4 linked regions of the Homo sapiens genome follow. The protein of the gene in region 1 interacts with the protein of each later gene in a biochemical or structural test. Each region holds a gene or a part of one and is shown on either strand. Other genes may lie near its edges. The genes, in order: NUMB, GLI1, NOTCH1 and PRKCB.

Region 1 (5,475 bases):
TGGAGTATGGGATTAGGAAGAGACCCCCAGTCATCTTAAATGCATTAACCAAGGAGTTGCTATATTAGTAATTAACGTTCAGTGACTTCCCCCTCTCTACCCACGAAAACCCTGTTTCTCCCCACTTGTTTGCTGATAAGTTACGTTCCTTTTTTTTGAGACGGTGTCTTGCTCTTTTGACGTGGAGGGAGTATGCAGTGGCATGATCTCGGCTCACTGCAGCCTCAACATTCTGGGCTCAGGTGATCCTTCTGCCTCAGCCTCTCCAGTTGCTGGGACTACAGGCTGCCCAGTTTTGTTTTGTTTTGTTTTGTTTTTGAGACAGAGTTTCGTTCTCGTTGCCCAGGCTGGAGTACAATGGCACAATTTTAGCTCACCGCAACCTCCACTTCCTGGGTTCAGGTGATTCTCCTGCCTCATCCTCCCTAGTAGCTGGGATTACAGGTGTGCACTACCACACCCCGCTAATTTTTGCATTTTTAGTAGAGATGAGGTTTCACCATTTTGGTCAGGCTGGTCTTGAACTCCTGGTCTCAGGTGATCCATCCACCCTGGCCTCCCAAAGTTCTGGGATTCCAGGCGTGAGCCACCACGCCTGGCCAGTTTTTTTTTTGGGGGGTAGAGACAGGGTCTTGTTAAACTCCTAAACTCAGGCAGTCCTCCCAAAGTGTTGGGATTACAGGCATGAGCTACCGTGCTCAGGCTATCTTACGTTCTTTTAACCAAGATCAAAGTCTTCAATTACCTGAGTAGGACAGCAAAATCTTAATTATGGTAACTTGATTATATTAAGGTGAATTATAGTTAATTTGGAACATTTCTAGTTTAATTAGGGAAGAAGAGGGAAAAACTGTAGAATACTGCTTAGCTCTGAATAAAGGCAAAGCTGGGGCAACCAGGGACACAGAAATCAGCTAAATTTGTAACTTTATTTAAGATTGGCCTTGGTTACCTTTGACTTTGGAAAAGTAATAGTGATACTTTCGTCTAGTCACTTGTGCATATGTACATCTCAGGTACATTTTGATTTTATCATGTAGATAATTTGTGAAGGTTTATTTACTTAATTTATTTTATTTAAAGATGCCCAGGCTGGAGTGCAGTGGCACAATCTCGGCTCACTGAAATCTCCACCTCCCAGGTTCAAGCAATTGTCCTGCGTCAGGCTACCGAGTAGCTGGGACTACAGGGGCATGCCACTATGCCTGGCTAATTTTTGTTGTAGGTTTTTTTTTTTTTTTTTTAGACGGTGTCTCCTCTGTTGCCCAGGCTGGAGTGCAGTGGCTCAATCTTGGCTCACTGCAACCTCCGCCTTGTGGGTTCAAGTAATTCTCCTGCTTTAGCCTCCCGAATAGCTGGGACTACAGGCACACGCCACCACACCTGGCTAGTTTTTTGTATTTTTAGTAGAGATGGGGTTTCACCATATTGGCCAGGCTGGTATTGAACTCCTGACCTCGTGATCTGCCTGCCTCAGCCTCCCGAAGTGTAGATTTGTTTTTTGTTTTTTTTTTTTTTTTTTTTTGAGACAGAGTCCTGCTCTGTCGCCCAGGATAGAGTGCAATGGTGCAATCTTGGCTTACTGCAACCTCCGCCTCCTGGGTTCAAGCAATTCTCCTGCCTCAGCCTCTCAAGTAGCTGGGATTACAGGTGCCAACTAGCATGCCCAGCTAACTTTTTTGTATTTTTAGTAGAGACGGGATTTCACCGTGTTGCTCAGGCTAGTCTTGAACTCCTGGCCTCAAGTGATCCTCCTGCCTCGGCCTCCCAAAGTGCTGGGATTACAGGCGTGAGTCACTGCGTTTGGTTTATTTACTTAATTTCTTTTAATATAAGCGACTTTGTTATAAGAAGTTTTAACTCCCAGTATTCTGTTTTGTTTTTTTTTTTAAGATGGGGTCTCGCTCTGTCTTCCAGGCTGGAGTGCTGTGGCACGATCTCGGCTCACTGCAACCTCCGCCTATCAGGTTCAAGCGATTATCCTGCCTTCCGAGTAGCTGGGATTACAGGCGTGTGCCACCACGCCCGGCTAATTTTTGTATTTTTAGTAGAAACAGGGTTCCGCCATATTGGCCAGGCTGATCTCAAACTCCTGACCTCAAGTAATCCACCTGCCTTGGCCTCCCAAAGTGTTGGGATTACAGGCGTGAGCCACTGCGCCCAGCCTAGCTCCCAGTATTCTTTAATCAAGATAAAACTTTTTTTTCCTCCAAACTAGTATCTCACAGAACCATAGAATAGCCTGCTGATGACAGAAATATATTTGTGACTGCCATGTTATGAAATTGAAAGAGCATCATTTATGTCCAGAGGCAGCATGACAGAATGGACAAAATTCATTATAATTGTGTGACCATGATTTTGAATCTTGACTTTATCGTTAATTTACTAATTGAGCAGTTTATTAAACTTCTTTTAGATTCAGTTTCGTCATCCATAAAATGGAGCTTATGCTATCCTCCACATCAGGGTGATGGTGAGAATTAAATGAAAAGCATTTTGTGTAGTGTATAGCATTTTGCCCATAGTGGGCACTTAACAAATTGTAATTGTTAATTATTAATAATTATCACATTAGATCTATTATAGACTTCTCTTTTAGGATGGGCTAATATTCCAGATACTGTTATTGTAAGCATTGTGGCAGCTAGGAAAACCAGAGTCGACTTTAAAACATTACAGGTATTTTAAGGCTGGGCGCGGTGGCTCACATCTGTAATCCCAGCACTTTGGGAGGCCAAAGTGGGCGGATCACCTGAGGTCAGGAGTTCGAGACCAGCCTGGCCAACATGGCGAAAGCCCGTGTCTACTAAAAATACAAAAATTAGCTGGGAGTAGTGGTGCATGCCTGTAATCCCAGCTACTCAGGAGGCTGAGGCAGGAGAATTGCTTGAACTTGGGAGGCAGAGGTTGCAGTGAGCCGAGCCACTGCACTCCAGCCTGGGCGACAGAGTGTGACTCTGTATCAAAAAACAAACACCAAAACATTACATATATTTTAAACATTTACTACTTCAGTTTGTTTTTGTGGTTGGTTTATTTTGGTGTATTAGACTGAAACATGGGGTAAATGAAGCTAATATTTTGTTGTGTGGTCACAGGCTGTTTATCTATCATATTATAGTCAGCCCTTATCTGTGTATTCTGCATCCTTGGATTCAACCAGCAGTTGATAGAAAATATTTGGAAAGAAAACCCAATAAAAAATAAAACAATACAAATAATACGAATAAATACAGTATAAGTATTTACATAGCTTTTACATTGTATTAGGTATTATATTAATAAGTAATCTAGAGATTATATAACATATATGGGAGAATGTGTGCAGGTTATATGCAAATACAGGTATCAGTGGGGGATTGATTCCAGGACCCCAATATACCAAAATCCATAGATGCACAGGTCACTTATATAAGATGGTGTAGTATTTACATATAACCTGCACACATTCTCCCGTATACTTTGAATTATTTCTCTAGATTAATTATAATACTTAATATTAGGTTGGTGCAAAAGTAATTACAGCTTTTGCCATTAAAAGTAATAGCAAAAACACAATTACTTTTACACCAACCTAATATGATATAAATGTTATGTACATAGTTATACTGTATTGTTTAGGGTATAATGACAAGAAAGAAAAGTAGGTACATGTTCATTACAACCATCCATTTTTTTTTCCGAATATATTTGATGCAAGATTGGTTGAATCCTCCTGTGTGGGACCCATGGATACAGAGGACCGACTGTACTATGCCATTATACATAAGGAACTGGGATATCTGCAGATTTTGGTATCCATGGGGTCCTGGATCGAGTCCCCCTCAGATACCAAGATGTGACTGTACCTGGTCCTCTTCCAAATACATGTGAGTTTTTGACAACAGTGGAAACCATTAATCCTACTACTAGAAAAAAACAATTGAGCATTATATTATTTACTGATTTTGTTATTAAAATCATTGCTTTTATTGAATTATTTTATTTACTGATATTGTTAATGATTTTAAATTAGTTCTAAATGCCAGTTAGAACCAGCTTATTTTTCCCTGGAGTTAATATATTTATCTTCGCAATTCAAGTAGAAATAGTTTTTATTTCAGAATTTAAGCCCTGTATCTTCCTTAGATAAGGATTTGGTCAAATGAAAGAAAAATCTGTATTTGTAGAAAGCTGTTAAAATCTGGCCTGGTGTGGTGGCTCATGCCTTTAATCCCAGCACTTTGGGAGCCAAGGAGGGAGAATTGCTGGAGCCTAGGGTTTTGATAAAAGCCTGGGCAACGTAGCAAGACCCTATCTCTATTATAAATTAAAAAAAATAAAGCTGTTAAAAGCTATATTATTTATTGTCTCTGATGAAAGGTGTACAATTTCCATCACATTCATGATGTAATAGACTTCAAATCTCATCAGTGAACATAATTTTGAATTATTATTTTAAAGAGTTGATTCATTCTTGTTTTTGAAAATTATCTAGCATTGGTGGTATGAAGGAAAGATATTTCCTGTAGTAGCCAAGTAAGTCTTCCTTAACTCTTGCAAGGAAAGCAGTCCCAAATACTATATTGAAAATATTAGAGGCCAGATGCGGTGGCTCATGCCTGTAATCCCAGCAGTTTGGGAGGCCGAGGCAGGCGAATCACTTGAGCTCAGAGTTCGAGACCAGCCTGGCCAACGTGGTAAAACCCAGTCTTTACTAAAAATACAAAAAAGTAGCTGGGTGTGGTGGTGCATGCCTGTTGTCCCAGCTACTAGGGAGGCTGAGGTGGGAGAATCGCTTGAACCCGAGGGTTGGGGGTAGGGTAGGGGGCATTGTAGTGAGCCATGATTGTGCCACTGCACTCCAGCCTGGGTGACAGAGTCAGCCTCCATCTCAAAAAAAAAAAAAAATCGGCAAGAAAATGAACTGCAAATGTCCATTTACATGACTGGTCATTTATAAAAATGTTAACATGTTACATCAAATGTTGTTCTTTATTTTTTCTTTTCTTTTTTTTTTTGTAGAGATGAGGTCATTCTATGTTGCGCAGGTTTGTTTGTTTTTTTTTCCTTTTTAGTGATCCTCCTGCCTCAGTCTCCCAAAGTGCTGGGATTATAAGTGTCAGACACTGTGCTCAGCCTATTGTTCATTTCTTAGTATCTTTCTGTAATACTCTAGACTAATTTTATATATATTTATTTATTTTTTGAGATGGAGTCTTGCACTGTCGCCTGGGCTGGAGCGCAATGGCGTGATCTCGGCTCATGGCAACCTCCACCTCTTGGGTTCAAGTGACTCTTCTGCCTCAGCCGCCTGAGTAGCTGGGATTACAGGCACCTGCCACCACGCCCAGCTAATTTTTTGTATTTTTAGTAGAGACGGGGTTTCACTATGTTGGCCAGTCTGGTCTCGAACTCCTGACCTCGTGATCTGCCCACCTTAGCCTCCCAAAGTGCTGAGATTACAGGCGTGAGCCACTGCACCCGGCCTAT
Region 2 (4,959 bases), on another chromosome or scaffold:
CCTGAGTAGCTGGGACTACAGGCGCCTGCCACCACGCCGGGCTAATTTTTTTGTATTTTTAGTAGACATGGGGTTTCACTGTGTTAACCAGGGTGGTCTTGATCTCCTGACCTCGTGATCTGCCCACCTCGGCCTCCCAAAGTGCTGGGATTACAGGCGTGAGCCACTGCACCCGGCAACTCTTTCTTAAATAGCACTTAGTATATGTTCCAAGCCTTTTACATGTATAATTTCATGTACTCCTCACAGCAACTTCATGATAAAGGGACTCACTGTTCCCATTTTCAGTTGAAGAAACTCAGGCATAGAGAAATAGCCCAAGGTCATAGAACTAAGAGCAAGAATTTGAGTCCAGCCAGTCCGTGCTCCAGCCTAGGTTCTTCTCATCAAACGTCTCACATTCAGTTTGCTCCCCCATCTCTTACCTGCTTAGCCCTTTCTACACTTACAAGCTTCCTTGGAACCCCAGCAGTCACTGGGACACAGGCTTCAGCCACTCATCAAGTTGAAGGAGCTGTGGGGAAGGGTGTTGCCCTCAGACCTCATCTTCTCCACAGAAGCCACAGCCAAGCCCTGGGGCCCAGTCATCCTGCAGCAGTGACCACTCCCCGGCAGGGAGTGCAGCCAATACAGACAGTGGTGTGGAAATGACTGGCAATGCAGGGGGCAGCACTGAAGACCTCTCCAGCTTGGACGAGGGACCTTGCATTGCTGGCACTGGTCTGTCCACTCTTCGCCGCCTTGAGAACCTCAGGCTGGACCAGCTACATCAACTCCGGCCAATAGGGACCCGGGGTCTCAAACTGCCCAGCTTGTCCCACACCGGTGAGACCTGGGTGTGGGAGGTGTGGCTGGGGTGAGATCTGGACCTGCCCTGAGGTTGAGAGGAGGAAGTCACCCTTGAGGGCTGTCACACAGCACTTTTGTATAATTAGAAAATGGTGTCCTTCCTCAAGACACTTTCCATTTATCAGAAAATAGTTGTGATGTACAAACATGCAAAGGCTAGCCAGGCATGGTGGTGGGCACCTGTAATCCCAGCTACTCAGGAAGCTGAAGCAGGAGAATTGCTTGAACCTGGGAGGCAGAGGTTGCAGTGAGCTGAGATTGCGCCATTGCACTCCAACTTGAGCAACAAGAGCGAAACTCTGTTTCAAACAAAACAAAACAAAACAAACAAACAAACAAGTATGCAAAGGCTATGATGCGAATGCTGTTCCCTAGGATTGTGCAGCACACAACCTGCACAACTGTTCATAGCAACCCTGAATCCTTGGTAACCCAGAAACAGAATAGGCATGGGAGAAGTAGGAGACAGAACAGACTGGTTAGGGATAACGAGCTTACCCCTGAGAATCCAGGGCAAGGCTGTTGCATGGAGGAGGCAGGGTGAAATTTAGGAAGCTCCTTGACCATCCTACCTTTTCTCCCCATCACTTGCAGGTACCACTGTGTCCCGCCGCGTGGGCCCCCCAGTCTCTCTTGAACGCCGCAGCAGCAGCTCCAGCAGCATCAGCTCTGCCTATACTGTCAGCCGCCGCTCCTCCCTGGCCTCTCCTTTCCCCCCTGGCTCCCCACCAGAGAATGGAGCATCCTCCCTGCCTGGCCTTATGCCTGCCCAGCACTACCTGCTTCGGGCAAGATATGCTTCAGCCAGAGGGGGTGGTACTTCGCCCACTGCAGCATCCAGCCTGGATCGGATAGGTGGTCTTCCCATGCCTCCTTGGAGAAGCCGAGCCGAGTATCCAGGATACAACCCCAATGCAGGGGTCACCCGGAGGGCCAGTGACCCAGCCCAGGCTGCTGACCGTCCTGCTCCAGCTAGAGTCCAGAGGTTCAAGAGCCTGGGCTGTGTCCATACCCCACCCACTGTGGCAGGGGGAGGACAGAACTTTGATCCTTACCTCCCAACCTCTGTCTACTCACCACAGCCCCCCAGCATCACTGAGAATGCTGCCATGGATGCTAGAGGGCTACAGGAAGAGCCAGAAGTTGGGACCTCCATGGTGGGCAGTGGTCTGAACCCCTATATGGACTTCCCACCTACTGATACTCTGGGATATGGGGGACCTGAAGGGGCAGCAGCTGAGCCTTATGGAGCGAGGGGTCCAGGCTCTCTGCCTCTTGGGCCTGGTCCACCCACCAACTATGGCCCCAACCCCTGTCCCCAGCAGGCCTCATATCCTGACCCCACCCAAGAAACATGGGGTGAGTTCCCTTCCCACTCTGGGCTGTACCCAGGCCCCAAGGCTCTAGGTGGAACCTACAGCCAGTGTCCTCGACTTGAACATTATGGACAAGTGCAAGTCAAGCCAGAACAGGGGTGCCCAGTGGGGTCTGACTCCACAGGACTGGCACCCTGCCTCAATGCCCACCCCAGTGAGGGGCCCCCACATCCACAGCCTCTCTTTTCCCATTACCCCCAGCCCTCTCCTCCCCAATATCTCCAGTCAGGCCCCTATACCCAGCCACCCCCTGATTATCTTCCTTCAGAACCCAGGCCTTGCCTGGACTTTGATTCCCCCACCCATTCCACAGGGCAGCTCAAGGCTCAGCTTGTGTGTAATTATGTTCAATCTCAACAGGAGCTACTGTGGGAGGGTGGGGGCAGGGAAGATGCCCCCGCCCAGGAACCTTCCTACCAGAGTCCCAAGTTTCTGGGGGGTTCCCAGGTTAGCCCAAGCCGTGCTAAAGCTCCAGTGAACACATATGGACCTGGCTTTGGACCCAACTTGCCCAATCACAAGTCAGGTTCCTATCCCACCCCTTCACCATGCCATGAAAATTTTGTAGTGGGGGCAAATAGGGCTTCACATAGGGCAGCAGCACCACCTCGACTTCTGCCCCCATTGCCCACTTGCTATGGGCCTCTCAAAGTGGGAGGCACAAACCCCAGCTGTGGTCATCCTGAGGTGGGCAGGCTAGGAGGGGGTCCTGCCTTGTACCCTCCTCCCGAAGGACAGGTATGTAACCCCCTGGACTCTCTTGATCTTGACAACACTCAGCTGGACTTTGTGGCTATTCTGGATGAGCCCCAGGGGCTGAGTCCTCCTCCTTCCCATGATCAGCGGGGCAGCTCTGGACATACCCCACCTCCCTCTGGGCCCCCCAACATGGCTGTGGGCAACATGAGTGTCTTACTGAGATCCCTACCTGGGGAAACAGAATTCCTCAACTCTAGTGCCTAAAGAGTAGGGAATCTCATCCATCACAGATCGCATTTCCTAAGGGGTTTCTATCCTTCCAGAAAAATTGGGGGAGCTGCAGTCCCATGCACAAGATGCCCCAGGGATGGGAGGTATGGGCTGGGGGCTATGTATAGTCTGTATACGTTTTGAGGAGAAATTTGATAATGACACTGTTTCCTGATAATAAAGGAACTGCATCAGAAAAAATACCATGCCACTTTATGTATTATTATGTTGGGGAGGAATGATAACAGGGAACAAGAAGAGAAGCAGGGGTTAATCCACTCACTTTCCTCTTTAGAGAAGCTCCCTCACCCATCCCAACACCTCAAGTCACACTCATGAAGATAGAGACAGTCATTTGGGAGATTTAAAGGGATATCCTCAAAACAGAACACCAGCCTCTCACCACCAGAGATGACCGGAAATATGTTTTCTCTTCTTCCTTCCCTGCATCAGGGGAAGAGGCTGGTGAAGTTGGTGAGCATCAGCTGGACCAGCTGCCCTGGGTAGAGAGCATGGGCTGCTGGGTCAGATGTCTCCTGCTCTGGCCGAAACAGGGTTGGTCCAAACACAATTCCCAGGTTGTGGGGTGTCATGCGATTCTTATCTGAGTGTGCTATCACCCTGTAAGCAAAGGCCAAGGAAGGGGATATATGGCAGCAGCTTGCCACTTCATAGCAATCTAACTAACCCTTCAAAGTTCTGAGCAGGGAAGAGTTCACTCTGGGATTCCTCCACATGGTAACAAAAAAACCAAGGAGATACAAGGAGAATGGAGATGGACCAGTGGAGAAACCTTCAGGATACAACCTGAAGATATAACTGCCTCTTCCGACTTCAGGGGCTGCCCCAAGAGTTCTGCCTGCTCACAGTTTGGGAGTCTTTAATTCAAGTGGCCATCCTCTCTCAGAAGTCACTGCCCAGGCCCAGTTCAACCAAAGAAGCCATCAGCAATGTCCCAATGGGAGACAAAGAGGCAGAGGGAAGGGAGAAGTAAGATTTCCCTTATTCCTTTCACAGCATCTTGGTTCCATTTCCCCACTTGATGCTGACCTTTAGGTTTTGACCTAAAGTCTTTGACGGGCACGGTGTAATCCCAGCACTTTGGGAGGCTGAGGTGGGTAAATCACCTGAGGTCAGGAGTTCGAGACCAGCCTGGCCAACATGGTGAAACCCCGTCTCTACTAAAAATACAAAAATTAGCCAGGCGTGGTGGCGGGCACCTGTAATCCCAGTTACTCAGGAGGCTGAGGCAGGAGAATTACTTGAACCCGGGAGGCAGAGGTTGCAGTGAGCTGAAATTGCGCCACTGCACTCCAGTCTGGGTGACAGAGCGAGACTCTGTCTCAAAAATAAATAAAATAAAAAAATAAAGGTTTTGACTCTGGTAATATGCTCCTGCACAGAGGTTGCCTGCTTCCTCACCTGCCCATTAAACTTAGGTGCTTCCCTACCTTCACTCCACCTGCACAGAGTCCCTGTGGCATTCCCCACTCCACCTTTCCCCAGCATGAACAAAGAGGTTCTGTCTTCCTGACCTGCATAAATGCTCCAGGAGGTACCGTAGAGTGTCATGGTTGGGCTTTGGCATTGAGCCTATTAATTCTTGTATCTGAGAGAGGCACTGCTCTGATTCGGAGAGTGCTAGAGAGAGTGATGGGAAAGGCATGGTAGTAAGGTTAGGGAAGGTGCTAGGACAGGATGGGTAAATGCACTGCTCTTTCCCACAGGCATGGAAGACATCATTAATCTAGCACAGCTTTCTTTT
Region 3 (5,475 bases), on another chromosome or scaffold:
TCCGCCCCCACCTGCGGCGGTCACAGCTGCCGGTGGAGCCACCTGGGAACGAGTCCAGCCACGGGAAAGTGGGTGCCTGCTTCTCTCCCCACCCTTTCCTCCTGAATTTTCTTTGTTGGGTATTATTTCAAAATCATTACGGCTTTTTTTAAAGAAAAAAAAAGAGAGAGAGAGAAGAATTGATCGGTGTCATGTGAAGTGTTGAAGTTTGTATCTTGAAAATCCCTCTAAATCCTTTGTCTTAACAGCTCAGTGCGAGTGCAGCGATTTGAAGTTGACTAATCCTCCTTCCTTAAAGGAGAAAAAAGTAAAAGCCGTCTCCAGATAGAGTCGGCTGGTGCAGGAGAGAATTTAGCGATAGTTTGCAATTCTGATTAATCGCGTAGAAAATGACCTTATTTTGGAGGGCGGGATGGAGGAGAGTGGGTGAGGAGGCGCCCGGACGCGGAGCCAGTCCGCCGCCCCCCGGCCACCAGCCTGCTGCGTAGCCGCTGCCTGATGTCCGGGCACCTGCCCCTGGCCCCCGTGCCCGCAGGTGAGACCGTGGAGCCGCCCCCGCCGGCGCAGCTGCACTTCATGTACGTGGCGGCGGCCGCCTTTGTGCTTCTGTTCTTCGTGGGCTGCGGGGTGCTGCTGTCCCGCAAGCGCCGGCGGCAGCATGGCCAGCTCTGGTTCCCTGAGGGCTTCAAAGTGTCTGAGGCCAGCAAGAAGAAGCGGCGGGAGCCCCTCGGCGAGGACTCCGTGGGCCTCAAGTGAGCGGACGCCGCCCCTGCTTCTGGGTCCCCGGTGGGAGGTGGGACCTGGCCGAGCATCCTCACCGGGAGTCTGCCCCTCCCGACCCAGGGCCCACCTCCCACGCCAGGCCCGGGCCAGGGGTCTCTGGGGGCTTCCTAGGGAGCTCGCTCAGCCTCACTTCTCGACCCCTCACCCCCCAGGCCCCTGAAGAACGCTTCAGACGGTGCCCTCATGGACGACAACCAGAATGAGTGGGGGGACGAGGACCTGGAGACCAAGAAGTTCCGGGTGAGTCGCGAGGCTCCCGGGCTCCTGGGCTCCCGGGCACCTGCTGCCGGGCTGCCCTGACAGGCTCTGCTCACTCCCTCTATGTAGTTCGAGGAGCCCGTGGTTCTGCCTGACCTGGACGACCAGACAGACCACCGGCAGTGGACTCAGCAGCACCTGGATGCCGCTGACCTGCGCATGTCTGCCATGGCCCCCACACCGCCCCAGGGTGAGGTTGACGCCGACTGCATGGACGTCAATGTCCGCGGGCCTGGTAAGGGTGCCAGCAGCCAGGGCTTCCCTAGCCCCGTGGCCCACCTGCCTCTCTCCCCTAAGCCCCGAGGCTGGGGTACAGTTGATACTCTGGAAACTTAGAATTGGGGGTGAGAGCTTTCATCCTTGGGGTGTTTCCCATTCAGAGTAGACGTGGGGGGGTCCTGGAGTCCTCCTGTTCTTCCACCAACCCCTTCCTGGGGTGATACCGCAGGGCCACTCTGTCCCTGTAAATTACTCTTTTCTGAAACCTTCTTGAGACATGGAAAGCGTTGATTTTCTTTTTCTTTTTTTTTTTCTTTTTTTTTTGTTTTTGAGATGGAGTCTCGCTCCGTCACCCAGGCTGGAGTGCAGTGGCACGATCTCGGCTCCCTGCAACCTCCACCTCTCGGGTTCAAGCAATTCTCCTGCCTCAGCCTCCCCAGTAGCTGGGACTACAGGCGCCTGCCACCACACCTGGCTAATTTTTGTATTTTTAGCAGCGATGGGGTTTCACCATGTTGGCCAGGCTGGTCTCGAACTCCTGACCTCAGGTGATCCGCCCACCTCGGCCTCCCCCAGTGCTAGGATGACAGCGTGAGCCTCCGCATCCTGCTGAAGCATTAATTTTCTAACTGCATGCTTCTGGGGTCCTCTTTTTCCTGGGTGGATTTTGGGTGCCAGGTCTTGGGCAGGTCAGGAAGCAGTTGCCCGCCAGGAGTTTAAGCTGGATTCGGCTCTGTCCACTGAGCAGCCCAGGCGGACTTCAGCTGCCCCTTGGTGGCTGTGTGCACGGGGCCACCAAGTGCTGGGTGGTGCATCCACACCGTGGCCCCTTGAGCTTGGGGCTGCTGCCCCCCTCCCCCTGGGCTGCAGCTGGGGACCGGCCCTCCAGACTGAGCACCCGTCTCTGCCTCTGCAGATGGCTTCACCCCGCTCATGATCGCCTCCTGCAGCGGGGGCGGCCTGGAGACGGGCAACAGCGAGGAAGAGGAGGACGCGCCGGCCGTCATCTCCGACTTCATCTACCAGGGCGCCAGCCTGCACAACCAGACAGACCGCACGGGCGAGACCGCCTTGCACCTGGCCGCCCGCTACTCACGCTCTGATGCCGCCAAGCGCCTGCTGGAGGCCAGCGCAGATGCCAACATCCAGGACAACATGGGCCGCACCCCGCTGCATGCGGCTGTGTCTGCCGACGCACAAGGTGTCTTCCAGGTAGGCAGTGGCTGCCTGTGTGCCCACCTGCCCTCCTCAGGGCCGCCTGGTGGTCTGGGGCAGTGGCCAGGCTTACGTGGCCCTGGGAGCCTGACCCCGAGCACAGCTGAGTCCGGGACAACTGGTGCCTCCACCTGGGACCTTCGCAGTCAGCGAGGTGCGAGGGGGAGGGCGTCGGGCCCATCTGTGTTCTCCAGGGAAGTCAGGCAGAGGCGGGTCTGGCAGGAGGCCTGGGGGATCTGCTGAGTGAGGCAGCACCTCCCCACCCCCAGCAAAACAGGCTCCATCAGGGTTGTGGGCCTTGCTCAAGGTCCAGGTTCCACTGCTGCAGCCCCTCGCAGCCCCGCCCCTCCCTCAACCTTGGCTGCCGGCGTAGCCTGTGGCAGTGAGAAGCAGGGTTTAGAGGCTGCCGCTCGGTGCCTGCAGACCTAGGGCTCAGCTTGCCGGTGAGCTCGTGGCAAGAATGGATTTAGGGATTTGGATGCCTGGGTCTCCAGGGAGTGTCCCTGGCAGGGGCTGCCTTTGCAGTCACCCCTGCTGCGAGTCCCCAGGCTCCAGGCGGCCCTGGAGCAAGCAGGTTCAGATGGGCACAGCCCGGGGAGTTACCACAGAGCTTCTCATTTCCTGATTTCTTAGCTCAGGTGACACATTGTCATCTCGCAGAAATAAATGTAGGTGAGCAGAAAGAGCGTGGAAGGGAGCCCCGTGCGGGTTTGGTGTGTGCCTCTCTCAGCTGCCTTCTTTGCACAGATGTGGAAGTTCCCAGGTGCTTTGCAGGAATCAGGCCAAGTTGCCTTTTGCACCCGCCAGTGAGCAGGGGCCATTCCTCCTGCCAGATGCCAAGACCCGGCTGCATTACAAGGGCTGCCCACCCCCTCTCTGGGCAGAGCCGGACACTAGCTCGGCGGTTCTGAGACGGCTGTAGGGCCGTGAGCCCGGCTTCCTGAGTGCCAGCTGTAACCGCCGTTGGGGGCAGGGACTTGACCTCTCTGTTTTGTAGGTGGTCATGGCAGCTAGGACCACAGTGAGGATTAAATGAGGCCACACGTGGTCACGATGGATCCCACTGTCACCAAGGGGCCTGTCTGTGGGCAGCACAGCCCCTGCCCCCATCCGGGCCCCTCCTCAGGGGCAGCCCCATGGCGTTTCGTCTTGCCCGGCCGTGCCGATCTCAGGAGGGTCTCGTCTGTGTCCGGAAGACAGTGGGGCTTCCCGTCCAGGCGTTCGTTCTGGGCAGGAGGCATCGGTGTACGTCTGCCCAGCACCCGCCTGAGCCTCTCCCTGTTGCCCAGATCCTGATCCGGAACCGAGCCACAGACCTGGATGCCCGCATGCATGATGGCACGACGCCACTGATCCTGGCTGCCCGCCTGGCCGTGGAGGGCATGCTGGAGGACCTCATCAACTCACACGCCGACGTCAACGCCGTAGATGACCTGGGTGAGCCCACGGGGGCACGGCTGCTCTGTCGTGGGGCGGGACCGCCACAGGGACGGGTGGGACTGGGTTGCCTCCAGCTGGTCTCCAACCTACCCCATCTGCTTCTTTCACGCAGGCAAGTCCGCCCTGCACTGGGCCGCCGCCGTGAACAATGTGGATGCCGCAGTTGTGCTCCTGAAGAACGGGGCTAACAAAGATATGCAGAACAACAGGGTGAGCGCGAGGCTGGGATGCCAGGGGAGACGTGAGGGCTGAATCCACAGAGAAGTGAGGGCCAAACCCACGGGGCGCAGGGACACAAGGGCCTGACCCACAGGGTCTCGAGGGTCGCTGGGCCCGCATGTGGGCCCCACCCGCATGATGCGGGCACCTCGTTAGTGCTCCTGCCTTCCTTCAGCCCCCGTTTATGGAGCCCTTCCAAGTGCAGGTCCAGCTGTCAGGACACGGCGGCTCGCCCCTCAGACCCAGCCCTACCCTCCTGGGCGGCAGTCATGGCGGGGCACACAGCCTGGCGTGGGGAACGCTGCTGCTGCCACTGCTGTGTCACCGTCACCTGGACCTCACCTTCTGTCCCCAGCTGTCACCAGGCGGGGGTGGGGATGGGAATGTGGTGACGCAGGTGGTGCAGATTGAGCCAGAACACGCGTGGCGGCAGCTCCCTGCGGGGCGGGGCCTCTTGGTGTGTTCACCAAGGCCAAGGACCTCAAGGCTCAGAGGAAGAAGTCTCAGGACTATATCCAAGGGGAGCCACCCCCAGCCCTCATCCTGGCCCTGCAGCTCCTGGCCCTGCAGCTGCTGTTGGTTTCCCCTGGGTGCTCAGGGCACAGGTGCAGACACCCCCACCTCCCTGCCGCCAGAACCCCCACCCCCGCCCCCAACTCCTGCTGCCCCCTTGGCATGTCAGGCTCAGGCGTCTCTCCCTCCTGGGTGAGGGCACACAGCGGGCCTGGGCACCGGGGCATGTTGGCCCAGGCGCTCCCCAGTCCGTGGCAGCATGGCCCCACAGAGACTGGGCCCCAGAGGGCATCAAGGCCTGGGAAGCCCCTTCCCACTCCCACACAGCAGCCTCACCCAGACCTGTGACGTGTCCACCGCACAGAGGAGACCCCAGGAAGGAGCTTGGTGGCCACCAGGGTGGCTTGATGGCCGTCCAGATGACGAGCTCCCTCCCTGGTGCCCTCGCCGGTGCCTCTGAACCGCTCCAGGAATTTCCTTTTGTGCCTTATTGGGGGCAGGGAAGAGGGCCTGCAGTTGGTTAGATTTTCAGTGGGGTCTGTGACCCCCCCATAGAGGTGGAGCCCCGCTGATCTAGGGTAGAGGACTGCACAGATCCCCTCTCTGGGTGGGTTTCAGAAGATGTATCAAAGCCTTAACATTTAACAAGAGTCAGGCTAGGTGGTTGCAGGACGCTGGGGTGGGGTCCTGAGGAGCAGCCTGCCTGCCCCCACCCCGCGGAGGAGGTTGTACTGCTGCTTCCTCTGGTGATGGAACCTTGGGGAGGGTCCCCACGCCTGGCCTGGCCCCCCTCACCGGCCCCCGCCCTCATCCCCCAGGAGGAGACAC
Region 4 (5,475 bases), on another chromosome or scaffold:
TTTGGTGTAAAAATGAGATGCAGCTTGCAAGCTGAGATGGGAGATGAATTCAGCCTGTGGAAAAATAGAAGACACTGCCATGTTGCTGGAGTGCAGAAAAAATGTCAGCACAGAATAAGTTACAGCTTGATCCTGGTAGCCGATTCAATGCTTCTCCCATCTCATTTATTCGGTCTCAACCCCTTACTAGCTGTATCATTTTAGGGAAGTCAGTCTTATTTATTTTCCAGCAATGGTCAGCTGTTTGAGTGTAGGAAAAGGACAGAGTAAGAAAGGACAGGTATTTGAATTTAAGTAGGGCTGGGGTCATGTGAGACAAGTAAAATAAAAAGAAAGAGGGGCAAGGGAGTTGAGGGTCTTTCCAAAGGAGTAGCTAAAATGCACCATAAAATTGAATCTGGATATGAATGGAGTAAAAGCAAGAGGGAATAGGGAGATCAAGAGAATGTGTTGGGTTCGAGGGACTGATTGGTGGAGAATGGACTGACGAATAGGGGAAGATTTATTGCAGTAGAATAATAGAACTAATGAATTGGAAAAATAGAAATTGGTGTAAGATAGTAGGGTACTTGAAACTGAGATTGAGAAAGTGGTATAATTTCTGGGATAATAGGCTCCAGAGCGTGACCATGGTAGGAGATAACTATGATTGGGGGTGAGCAAAGGTTGCAGGAAATGAGGGGGTGCTTTCTCTCCTACTTTCCAATATTCTTTCTTCTAATCTGTTTTTCTTGTTATCTTGAGTTTACAAAATTTCTGGTTTTATTTATGCTGTGGATATTTTTCCAGCCTTTTCCCTATGGGCTGTCTGGGTGCAGGTTATGGGTGATACATGGATAATAGGTGCATCTTGGTTTAGAGGGTAACTCTTTATTTCTTACTGCACTTATGGAACACGAGAAAAAAAAGTATTAAATAATGGCTATGGTAATGGATATCTTTGTCTTATTCCTTACTTTAATGGAATTGCATTTATCATGAACCATGGTGCTGTTATTTCAGATAGCCTTTATCCTGTTAAAATTCTCTGCTGTTTCTAGATAACTACAATGATCTTATGGTTTTCTTCTTTGATCTATAAATATGATGAATATATTGAAAATAGATTTCCTAAGATTGAACCATCTTTGCATTCCTGATAGGAGTCATTATGTATTCACCTTTTAGCAGATAGTTAGAGTCGATTTGGATTGAATGTATTACTGTGGATTGTTCTACTGTAAGTGAGATGATTGACATTGTATCCTTAAGAGCTGTGCAATTCTCATTTTCTAGTCTGCTTCCATTGACTACCTGCATTACTGGTTTCTGAATTGATTCCTAATTAACTACTTCCTGTTTCTCCAAGCTGATGATTTAGTCTCCCTCATCCTTTCTATAGCCAGTTGCATCTTCACTGCTGATTCCCTGCCTCCTTTTCTCCTGTAAGTTCATCTTTTTTTTTTGACGGAGTCTCACTCTGTCGCCCAGGCTGGAGTGCAGTGGCATGATCTTGGCTCACTGCAAGCTCTGCCTCCTGGGTTCATGCCATTCTCCTGCCTGGGCCTCCCAAGTAGGTGGGACCACAGGCACCTGCCACCATGCCTGGCTAATTTTTTTGTATTGTTAGTAGAGACAGGGTTTCACCATGTTAGCCTTATAGCCTCTTTACCTGGGTGTTCTGGAGTCAGGGTGGAGCTGAGCTCTAATGCTGCTGACATTGTTCCAGCCTTCTCTCTATGGGCTGTCTGGGTGCTGGTTATGGGTGATACATGGATAATAGGTGTACCTTGGTTTAGAGGGTAATTCTTCCTTTCTTTAGCTTTTTCTTTTTGAATGGAGGTAAAATTAACGTAACATAAAATTAACCATTAACTGTTTTTAAACGTACAATTCAGTGACATTTATAGAATATTCACAGTGTTGGACAACCATCATCTCTATCTAGTTCTCAGAAATTTTCATCACCTCTAAAAGAAACCCTGTACTCATTAAGCAGTCACTCCCCATTTCCCTTTCCCTCCAGCCTCTGGCAACTATTAATAGTAGTCTACTTTCTGTCTCTATGGATTTACCTGTTTGGGATGTTTCATGTAAATGGAATCATACAATATGTGACCTTTTGTGTTGGGGTACACAAATGTTCATAGCAGCAGTATTCACAACAGCCAAAAAGTGGAAACAACCCAACTATGCATCAACTGCTGAATGGATAAACAAAATGTGGGATATCTATACAATGGAATATTATTCAGTCATGCAAAAAAATGAAGTGCTGATACATGCTATAATGTGGTGAACTTTGAAAACGTTATGCTAAATGAAAGAAGCCAGCCTTTCCTGTGGGCTTTGTGGAAAATAAGCTTAGAAAACTTACAGTTAATCTTGGTATGGGAAGAGCAGTGTAAAAGTCAGAAATCCATTTTTAACCAACACAGACCAGAGTTGACATCTTATCAGCCCATCTCATTTTGTGCACTGCTTCAGCTATGGATGTTAATAAAATTAAATTTCTCACTAAACAAGTGTGATGCCAAAGAACCTTCCACAAGTTCTGCAGCTGTCACTGCTTGGTGCTTAAACATGTTGGACAGTATTAATGCAAAAACTGCTTTTTCTTTTTCAGTAAGAGATGCTAAAAACCTTGTACCTATGGACCCCAATGGCCTGTCAGATCCCTACGTAAAACTGAAACTGATTCCCGATCCCAAAAGTGAGAGCAAACAGAAGACCAAAACCATCAAATGCTCCCTCAACCCTGAGTGGAATGAGACATTTAGATTGTAAGTGGAAATGACTGCAGTGAGCATGGGTGGTGGAGGTTGGGTTATGTGCCACCTGAAATCAGGGAGTTCCTCCTCCCTTAGCTCCTGTTTCCTTCCTTCCCTACCTCCCTCCTTTTCTGTCTTCTCCATCCCTCACTCCTATCTTTCCCTCCCTTCTTTTCCATCTGCAATTTTGTATTGTGAGCCAAGAAAAAAAATTAGAGCTATTTTTTTAATAGAGATGAGAATGCCTGTGGTGTGGGGGAGTGGGTAGGACAGGAAATGGTGTGATGTGTTGCTAAGTGAAGGCAAGTTGTGGGAGAAATGATGGGGCTCAGCAAATAGGGGAACATAACCTACAGGGTGTGGTGACAGCCTCTCTAGAGTTGGGTTTATGGATGATGCTTGGCCTGCAGCCTTCTGGGACATCTCCACCAGCCTCCCTTGAGGGTCTTCCCTGGCCAGGGCTCCAAGAATCTGGGAGTCTCTTTCTTGTACATCTAGGCATCAGGAGTTGGTTATAACAGCCAATTCACTGAGCATATATGATGTGTGACAAACACTGGGTTAAGCGATCCGACTTCATCGGCTCATTTTATTCCCAATGTAGCAATAGGGCTTATAGAGGTTAAAGAGTATGCCCAAAGTCCCATAGCAAATATGGGGTGGAGTGGGATTCAGCTTCTGGCAGTCTGACTTTAGCGGTCATACTTTTTTAGCCACCAGCTAGAAGCACAGTTCCTTGTCCTGTCTCCTCTTCCCTCTCTCAGGGCAAAGCTGGGCCCCTTCTCAGCCTCAGTCAAGGACATGTCTCAGAACAGACAATTTCCCCAGGATTTTTCTCCATGCATTTCCTCAGCCTCATTCTCAACCCACCTGTGTGCAGATATACACATGTACACACCCAATTATGCAATTGATATCTGTATTTCTTATAGGCAATAGGAATTCCTGAATATCCTGAACCCTATTAAGACATAAGATAACAAAAGTAGTTAGAACTGTTCTTGTCATAGCCAGTCTAAGACCTCTGCCTGTTTAAGCCACAGGCTGTCAAACAGAAAAAGCTCTCACTCCCTGGAGAGCTAGCCTGGGATGGAAACTGAATATGTTTCTTTCAGCAGCTTGTAATCTTTAAAACTTTCTACCTCCAGGTCTTGTCCTCTTGTACATTTATTCTGCTTGAGAAATTACTACAACCTCCACTGATGTCTTTTCTTTTTCTCTATGCAGTCAGCTGAAAGAATCGGACAAAGACAGAAGACTGTCAGTAGAGATTTGGGATTGGGATTTGACCAGCAGGAATGACTTCATGGGATCTTTGTCCTTTGGGATTTCTGAACTTCAGAAAGCCAGTGTTGATGGCTGGTAAGTAAGATTTTGCCTTGAAAGCTACCATACAGCTTGCTCCATCAAACGCGGGGTCAAGTATGTTTTCCTTTTTCTCCAAAAATTGAAATACTAAAACAGAGTCCCAAAGTGAAGTCTGGTTGATTGGATCTGCCTTGCAGATATGTTTTGTTTGGTCCTTGTACTAAAAACAAAAAAGAAAGAGGCCAGGCCTCGTGTCTGACACCTGTCATCCCAGCACTCTGGGAGGCCGAGGCAGGTAGATCACTTGAGCTCAGGAGTTTAAGACCAGTCTGGGCAACATGGTGAAACCCCATCTCTATCAAAAACATGAAAAATTAGCTGGGCATGGTGGTGTGTGCCTGTAGTTCCAGCTACTCAGGAGGCTGAGATGGGAGGATCACTTGAACCCTGGAGGCAGAGGTTGCAGTGAGCAAGGTGGTCAGAGATTGAGCCACTGCACTCCAGCCTGGGTGACAGAGTGATAAAAAAGAAAGAGAGAGAGAGAGAAGGAATGAAGGAAGGGAGGGAGGAAGGAAGGAAGGAAGGAAGGAAGGAAGGAAGGAAGGAAGGAAAGGAAGAAAAAGGGAAAGGGAAAGGAAGAAGAAAGAAAGAAGAAAGAAAGACGGAAAGCAGGAAGGAAGGAAGGGAGGAAGGGAAGGAGGGACAGAAGGAGGGAGGGAGGGAATTAGTTCTAGTATTTTAAAAATCTGGGGCTAGAAGGCAACAATTGAGAACAGTTGAATAGTTAATGCCCCCTTTAGACAGGACATGGATTTTCTATTTGTCACCGTCCTCACCACTCCCTATTTTATTACATCTGGGCCAATTTACTAAACTACATGATGAGACTGTAACTGCCCAGTGGCTTCTTTGTGCCTGCTGCCCAGACAGAGCCGATTTATCAAGATGGGAGAATTGCAATAGGGAAAGAGTTTTACACACATAGAGCCAGCTAAATGGGAGAACAGAGTTTTTTTATGACTCAAATCAGCCTCCCTGAAAATTTGGAAGCTAGGGCTTTTCAAAGATAGTTTGGCAAGGAGTAGGGTGGCTAGGGAATGGGTGCTGCTGACTGGTTGGGGATGCAGTAATAGGGGTGTGAAAAATGGTCCTCGTGCACTGAGTCCACTTCTGGGTGGGGCCACAGGACTAGTTGGCAGGTCCAGGTGGGGCAGTCTGGTTGTCAGGAAGGCAAAAGCCTGAAAAGACATCTCAAAAGGCCAATCTCAAGTTCTACAGTAGTGATGTTATCTGTAGGAGTAACTTAGGAAGTTGGAAGTGTTGTGAGCTCTGGGATAAAGGCTGATAATAATCCATGTCTACATCTTAGCAGAATTCAGGCTCCTTTCATTCTCCTAACTTGGCAATATTTCATTAG

Evidence for each region.
Region 2: the proteins of NUMB (region 1) and GLI1 form a complex in vitro, tested with the Homo sapiens proteins (one study listed by BioGRID).
Region 3: the proteins of NUMB (region 1) and NOTCH1 form a complex in vitro, tested with the Homo sapiens proteins (2 studies listed by BioGRID).
Region 4: of the proteins of NUMB (region 1) and PRKCB, one has a biochemical effect on the other in vitro, tested with the Homo sapiens proteins (one study listed by BioGRID).

Annotation. Positions count from the first base shown.
Region 1 is NC_000014.9:73,447,204-73,452,678, reverse strand, and holds part of NUMB (protein numb homolog), read left to right. Parts: intron 1-5,475. UniProt on the Homo sapiens protein: Regulates clathrin-mediated receptor endocytosis. Plays a role in the process of neurogenesis.
Region 2 is NC_000012.12:57,468,874-57,473,832, forward strand, and holds the end of GLI1 (zinc finger protein GLI1), read left to right. Parts: intron 1-557; coding exon 558-825; intron 826-1,443; coding exon 1,444-3,188; 3' UTR 3,189-3,395; downstream 3,396-4,959. Other genes in the region: ARHGAP9 (rho GTPase-activating protein 9), read right to left, coding at 3,644-3,815, 4,730-4,835. UniProt on the Homo sapiens protein: Acts as a transcriptional activator. Binds to the DNA consensus sequence 5'-GACCACCCA-3'. Regulates the transcription of specific genes during normal development.
Region 3 is NC_000009.12:136,497,549-136,503,023, reverse strand, and holds part of NOTCH1 (neurogenic locus notch homolog protein 1 preproprotein), read left to right. Parts: intron 1-535; coding exon 536-752; intron 753-935; coding exon 936-1,023; intron 1,024-1,110; coding exon 1,111-1,276; intron 1,277-2,176; coding exon 2,177-2,472; intron 2,473-3,764; coding exon 3,765-3,912; intron 3,913-4,027; coding exon 4,028-4,125; intron 4,126-5,465; coding exon 5,466-5,475. UniProt on the Homo sapiens protein: Functions as a receptor for membrane-bound ligands Jagged-1 (JAG1), Jagged-2 (JAG2) and Delta-1 (DLL1) to regulate cell-fate determination.
Region 4 is NC_000016.10:24,090,186-24,095,660, forward strand, and holds part of PRKCB (protein kinase C beta type), read left to right. Parts: intron 1-2,605; coding exon 2,606-2,762; intron 2,763-3,977; coding exon 3,978-4,112; intron 4,113-5,475. UniProt on the Homo sapiens protein: Calcium-activated, phospholipid- and diacylglycerol (DAG)-dependent serine/threonine-protein kinase involved in various cellular processes such as regulation of the B-cell receptor (BCR) signalosome, oxidative stress-induced apoptosis, androgen receptor-dependent transcription regulation, insulin signaling and endothelial cells proliferation.